Homo sapiens: one gene and its partner. The protein of the gene in region 2 purifies or fractionates together with the protein of the main gene of each other region. This does not show direct contact. Each region holds a gene or a part of one and is shown on either strand. Other genes may lie near its edges.

The links.
Region 1: the proteins of DGUOK (region 2) and VSNL1 purify together in Homo sapiens (affinity purification with mass spectrometry; 3 studies listed by BioGRID and IntAct, with this or other methods). This does not show direct contact.

Annotation. Positions count from the first base shown.
Region 1 is NC_000002.12:17,589,196-17,592,695, reverse strand, and holds part of VSNL1 (visinin-like protein 1), read right to left. Parts: intron 627-3,500; 5' UTR 622-626; coding exon 460-621; intron 1-459.
Region 2 is NC_000002.12:73,954,380-73,957,879, reverse strand, and holds part of DGUOK (deoxyguanosine kinase, mitochondrial isoform a precursor), read right to left. Parts: intron 756-3,500; coding exon 640-755; intron 1-639.

The DNA of each region.
Region 1 (3,500 bases), about 56 Mb from region 2:
GAGTATCTTTTCTGGTAAAAAAAAAAAAAAAAAAAAAAAAAAAAAAAAAAAAAAAGAGAGAGAGAGAGAAAAAGCCCTCTTGTGTACTTTTTCTTTAACTGGGAGAAGTACATATACCTTTAACAGGCCAAATAATGCTGTAATTAGCAAACTGTCAATAATTATCAGCAAACACTCTTCTCTGAGCTTTTTATGGTTCTTTCACCAGATGCTGTCATTCCTTGAGCTCTATTCAGTGCTTTGATTTAACAATTACTCTTTTTGTTCAGAAATTGCTTATTTTGGGAACAACATATATACATTTGCATTTTTAAATGTTAATTTTTCTTTCTGGATGGAAAACAGCCAGAGTTGAAACAAACTAGCTACTTAGAGTTATAATTCCATGTGAGGGTACAATTTCATGAAGGCCATAGTTTCTGGCCTAAGGAATAAAAACAAGGTTGAAAAACAACTTACCTTCACATAGAGCTGCTGAAATTCCTCGAGATTTAGCCTCCCACTTGGACAGTCCTTGAGAAATCCTTTGTACCACTGCTTGAGTTCATGCTCATTAAACTCTGTGCTCTTCACCAGGTCCTCCATCACTTCAGGGGCCAGTTTGCTATTCTGCTTCCCCATCCTGCCTGAAGAAAAGCAAATTAATTCAATTAGCGCTGTGGCTGTGATCATTTCAAACTTGGTTAGGAGCCAAGCTAGAGTTCTGAGCAGTCCCATGGTCGGAACTCCCTCCAGTGTGGCTGATGCATATCTTCCCAAGTCTGCCTCCTTCTACTTGGTATTCTAGAAAAATATATGAGTGAAATAGACTCTTCTGACAGTTCCAAGGGCTGTAGCATTCACTCTTTACCTCATTGTGTCATCTTTCATATGGTGTTGACTCCCAAATGGAAGGCAACCATCCCTTTTTATGCTATTCATAGTAAGCATATAGAAGTTGTTTTTCTTTTCCTTCTACAAATTACACTTTATTAACACTTGCCTCCCAGGTGTTTAACTCTACATTTAGTTTAATGGGATACTCAGTGGGATTACTGACAAGAACAATGAGAAGACTTTATAACTAAATGATCAGTAAGTGGCTTGGAATATCCAATCAGCAATATTAAGGAGTCTCAGTTGGTCTGGTTCAAGTTGGAGCTTTTTTCCCCAATAAAAACAGCTATTTCTATTAGTCACACTAATTCTCTATTTCTCCTCTCATAATTAGAAAGTTCGTACAACATTGTCTTCAGAGTTGACAAAATCTTAATGGTTTTCTTCTAGGGATTGGTTGGGGAGTTTTTGTTGATATTATTCCAGACTGCTATTATTTCTGATTTTGAGTTAAAGTAATAGTGCATAAGATAATGTTACCTATATCCATTAAGCACCAGGTTGTGTGGCCAACATCACAGCAGGGAGTAGGGAGACAGAGCAGGCTTGAGATAATTCCTGATTTTTCTTCCTGATTTGGCCAATTACTACATGTGTTACTTAGGGCAACGTTAATTAACTGCATTATCTTCAACTTATTCATTAATAAAGCAGACATAATAATGAAGCTCTTTCAGATTCATTGTGATGGCTGATTAACAAGTAAGTAGGTAAACAAAGGCCAAAAAAAATTCCAAAATTAAAATAACTGCAGGAAAATTAAAGATAATTTTAAAATTTTCCCTTTAAAGTTGCTTTATAATAAATAATAATAAGACTATTGCTAATAATAATAATAAAAGAATTAACACATAAATTAACCCCAGATTGATTTAAAAAGTCAAGTTAAACTTGAAAATTGGAAAATTTCCAGAATCTGGAAAGTGCCAGATGATCTTTCAAATTCAGTTAAAAGATACTGAGTTAGGGTTGAAGAATTAACCAAGTGAACCTAGTCCTTCACTGTGCTTGAGACAAACTCTCTTTCAAGCTGCAGGCATGTCTACACTTGCAATAGCCTGGAAGGGGTAATCTCATCACATACTTTATTGTCATGATTTTTTAACTTCTCCTAAAACAGATTCCACACCCATTGTCAGTAACCTGCCCCAACATTGGCCAATTCTTTCACTGTAATGAAACTAAGCCACTCTTGCTACTTCCAGGGAAATTTCCACTCAGCACAATCTCGGCAGCACAAAATGCAGTCAGATGATACCATTAAGATGGCCATTTACCCTCCAAACTCGTCAGCATGAGAAAAGGGCCCAGTATCAGCAACTCTTCCCTTTGTCATGGGGCTTCTCTACTTATTTTTGCTCTGAATTCAAGTTCCAAATCTCTTATAAGCAACTGTCTATTAATTATAAGTTACTGTGGAATTCCACAGCTGGGTGTGGAAATCAAGTGGGTACTCAGGTGTCAGGTTTAATTAATGTGAGTAAGAAAACTCTAATTCATGGTTATCCTGAAAATCAAAAGATGTATTATTGTGAAACCTTTCAGTACTTTACTTTGGTTTTTTGGTAGAGAATTACAAACCTTCATTCTTAAACTAGAATCTCACCTAAGAAAAATAGCTATTTAATATTGAGTGCTGGCGATGGAGAAGGCACTTAATGGAACACCTCACAAATTTCATCTCCTGCTCAGCAATCACCGAGCAATCAGGATTAGGGGAGCTCCCTGGGGCTCAGAACGCTTATGGTAACTTGTATAAGAGCATACAATTAATGCATGGCGGAGCTAGAATTTGAACCTGGATCTATAGGACTCCAATGTCCAATCATAGACTGGTGGATGAAAGACATTTCAGGAGAAGGAACAGGAAGAGCGAAAGCAGGGAGGCTTCAGAGAACTGAATCAGTGCCTAGAGGGGATGAAAAAGGATCACTTTGCCAGCCTGGCTGCCTTGTTTGGAAAAGACTTAAATTTACCAAACCACAAGCTCAGAAGTGACTTTGTATTAAAAACCACCTCCCCCAAGTGCCTTTAGAAGTTCAACAACGTATCAGCTTCTTTGTTAGGCAAGGAAGCTTGGCTTCTCCATGGGTCACTTGTGATGTCTTAAACTGTTCCAGTTGACTTTGGAGAGGGTGGTCTCTTACACACACAGGAAATATTGTCAGGACTGTGAATCACAGTTTGGAGACTCAAGTGCATAACTTCATGCTTCTTGTATGGGTCTGCACCATCACTCAGGTGTGTTGGGCAATGGTTGAATCACACAGAAAGTCAGGTTCTGGCCTGGCTCAGAATGGCATTGCCACTGCCCTCATAGGCCTCATCAGATCTTGCCTTGATTAAAGATTGGCCTCCCCACTGGGCTACCTGACTCCAACCACTCTCCTTCTGCACAGCTGCCTGAGTGAATTTCCAGAATACAAACCTCATTGATCTACTCTCTAAAAGCCTCTGTACTTCTCCTTAGTCTCCATGATGCAACCTCATCTCCTTAGCGTGGCTCAGGTCCTGCCTACTTATATCCTCGTTTTCTGCCAATCTGTCTTTTCTCATGTGTCAGTGATTATAAACTATTATAGATTCCAGGATTGCATGCTTCCACACTTCCATGGCTCTGCATA
Region 2 (3,500 bases):
AGGGAGGACAGGCAGAAACCAGGAATGCCAACTTAGTAATACTGACAATTTCTCTAACATTTTCAGCCCTTCATGCTGAGCCAACTATCACCATCAATCACAATGTTCAGTCTAGGGAAATGTTAAGAAACAAAGAAAAAGCTGGAGAAATACAATCTAATAAAAAGGCCCTTGGAATGTAAAGATTATATTCAATATTAAACTTCTTCTGGGCATCTCACTCTGTCGCCCAGGCTGGAGTACAGTGGTGCGATCTCGGCTCACCGCAATCTTTGCCTCCCAGGTTCAAGCGATTCTCCTGCCTCAGCCTCCCGAGTAGCTGGTATTACAGGCGCCTGACACCACACCTGGCTAATTTTTCTATTTTTAGTAGAGACAGGGTTTCACCATGTTGGCCAGGCTGGTCTTGAATCCTGACCTCAGGTGACTGCCTCAGCCTCCCAAAGTGCTGGGATTACAGGCGTGAGCCACGGTGTCCAGCAATATTAAACTTCTGAGTTGGAAAATGCTTGACATTTCCAACCATTTCCAGTATATTCTGAACCTTCCTACAGGGGGCTGCATGCTGAACTTGTTTTTAACAACTGGCTGTTGGGAGCCAGGTCTCTGTCTCTGATACATTCTTTTCTCCCCACTTACTTCGTTGTCTTGTGAATAAGCCAGGCTTCGTGTTGGCCATGCAGCTGCTCTAGATAGGCCAGCTCAATTCCTTTCTCCTCCTCCCTGGCCCTCTGGTACAGTCTCTTCAAACAAACCTAAAAGACAGTCCCCAAGCCCTGATGAGCTCTTTGCTGTTTTGGCTGCTACAATGCAGTCTTCGGGGGCTCTGAGGCCCACCCATAATGTCTATCTTGGGCATTACAAGCCATGCCTTTGCTTCTGCTGTCTTGTTTTCTTATGCAATCAGAGGATCTACACCATTCTTTTCCCATCTCCACCTTAAACCTGCTCTTCCTCTGAAGTATCCTAAGTCGGTTAATGATGAACATCATCCATCCAGTCATCCAAGCCACGGACCTGGAATTTTCCTTGTTTTTCCTTCTCCCTACTATATCTGGGAAGTCACTCAATTCTCTTTCATCTCTCTAGAATGTTCTCTCCTTGCCTCTCCTCTCACCTCTGCCCTGGTCGGGTCCTCTTTACTTCTTACCTGGATTATGGCAAGAGCCTTCTGGTTCTGCCTCCTGGAGGCAGGGAAGCATATGGACAGAGTACAGGCCTTAAGGTCAGAAAGTCCAGGAGTAAATTCCTGCCTTCATAAGGTACTAGCAGTGCAGTCCTTGTGGGCTTCTATTTCCTCATTGTCTACCCATCCACAGGTCACTGAGGTAAGTTGTATTGAGCTCCTGGCAAAAGCTGTTCCCTCCTTCCAGTTTTTCCCCTTCACTCCACCCGTCTGTAGTACGGCAATATAATGACATGACTTTCCTTGCTGAAAATACTTCACAGGCTCTTTACCGCCTACAGCCATAGCCCCAGGGTTCAAAGCAGTATGTATGAATAGCATTGCATTTATAAAATGTTAGGTAATTTGAAATATCTCTTTCATGTCATACCAAACATTCACTCAGGAATAGAATGTAAAATTTGCACAGGTCAAAGATAAAACAAAGAAGTGGAAAAACAAGTGAGGCTTGAGACTAACTCTCCTCCCCCGCTGCTTTGCAGAGTGTACATAATTCTATTCTGCATTCATCTGGTAGTGAAGTTTGATGCACACTGGCTCAGAAAATGACATCTTCTTTACCTGTCACACAAAGCTACCCCTCCTACTTCTCAACTGCCTTAGCTCTTCCCCTGGACTCACTGCTTTAGCCAGATTTGACCTCTTTCCTGGGGAACAGGCCAGGCTCTTTCACACCTCAAAATTTTTGCTCCAAATGTTTGTTTTGACTGAATTATCCTCAGTCCTCTCTCTGCTTGACAAACATTTCATTATTCAATATCATCTGTCCTGGAAGAACAGATGGATTAACCCACTGATTTAGGACTTCACTCTTTTTTTTTGAGACAGAGTCTTGCTCTGTTGCCAGGCTGGAGTGCAGTGGCGCGATCTCAGCTCACTGCAACCTCTGCCTCCCAGGTTCAAGTGATTCTCTTGCCTCAGCCTCTCAAGTAGCTGGGACTACAGGCGGGAGCCACCACGCCCAACTAATTTTTTGTATTTTTAGTAGAGATGGGGTTTCACCATGTCGGCCAGGATGGTCTCGATCTCTTGGCATCGTGATCTGCCCGCTTCGGCTTCTCAAAATGCTGGGATTACAGGCGTGAGCCACCGTGCCCGGCCAGGACTTCCCTCTTTCAATAACTTACTTAAGAAATGAAAACTTAATTTCCAAATGTAGTACACAATAATCCCAAAGACTTGGGAGTCTTTGCTGTTTCCCTCTTATCTTACCTTTTCTCTAAGGAAATGAAATTATAGAAACAAATTTTATTAATGATCAAAAGGTATATGCACTTGCAATTATATACTGCCAGACTGCCTCCTTAGAGGTTAACCAATTTATATTCCCACCAGAAAGGTAGCTTTAGGATTTCTAAGCATAGCAAAGCTATCATCTCATTTTCCTTTCTGAGAAAAAAAATGTTGTCTGTTTCGTGAAAATAAATTTTTTTAAAATGTGACTTTATGTTTCCAAGTACACACACAAAGGCAGAACAATTCTTTTTAGGAAAGCTATTTATAATTATTCATTCACTGCTTGCAGACAAACCTTGACACTAACATTGATCTATTAAAATAAGCTAACATATTTCTATTTACTATTAATTTCCTTAACAGAGCAAATGGATTTCCCTGAGAAGTCTAAGTCTTAACTGGTGGCAGTATTGAGTGGGGAAAAAAAAAGAGGTCGAAGTAAACTCCTACTATGAGCATTTGGCATAACTCTTGCTTTACTGATATCGCTATAACAAATTCTATTTAAAAAAATCCCGTGCAAACAGTGCTTTAGTCTGACCCCTCTTCATCTCAGTCCTCATGAGGAAGACACACCTGAATGTGAACAGGAAAGATAGTGTAGCTACAAGTGGCGAGGGAGAGACCCTTTACTGGTCTTCTTAACCTGTCCCACCCAGGAAGAAGAACTGCTGCTCTGCTTGCTTGGAGTCAGAAACAGAAAATGGAAAGTGACTGCTAGTGGGTCTTTTCACTATGCCTCTCAAGCCCAAACCCAGGTGCCATTTGTCCCATGCACCTCCTGCATGCTGTCCCCATGCTGTGCCAGTCCCAGGTAGGGCCTGGCTTTTTGATGTACATTGATCAGCTGCACTCTCTTGATTCCATGGGGCTGGCTAGGAACACTGAGGCCTAGCTATTTCTCTTTTGAGTTTTAAAATTGTTAGCTTGCTTGTGTTTTAAAAAAAATTTTTAGAGATGGGGTCTCCCTATGTTGACCATGCTCGTCTTGAGCTCCTGGCCTCAAGCAATCCTCCCATCTCAGCCTCCCAAAGTGCTGGGATTACAGGCGTGAGTCACCGTGCCCGGCCTGAGTTGC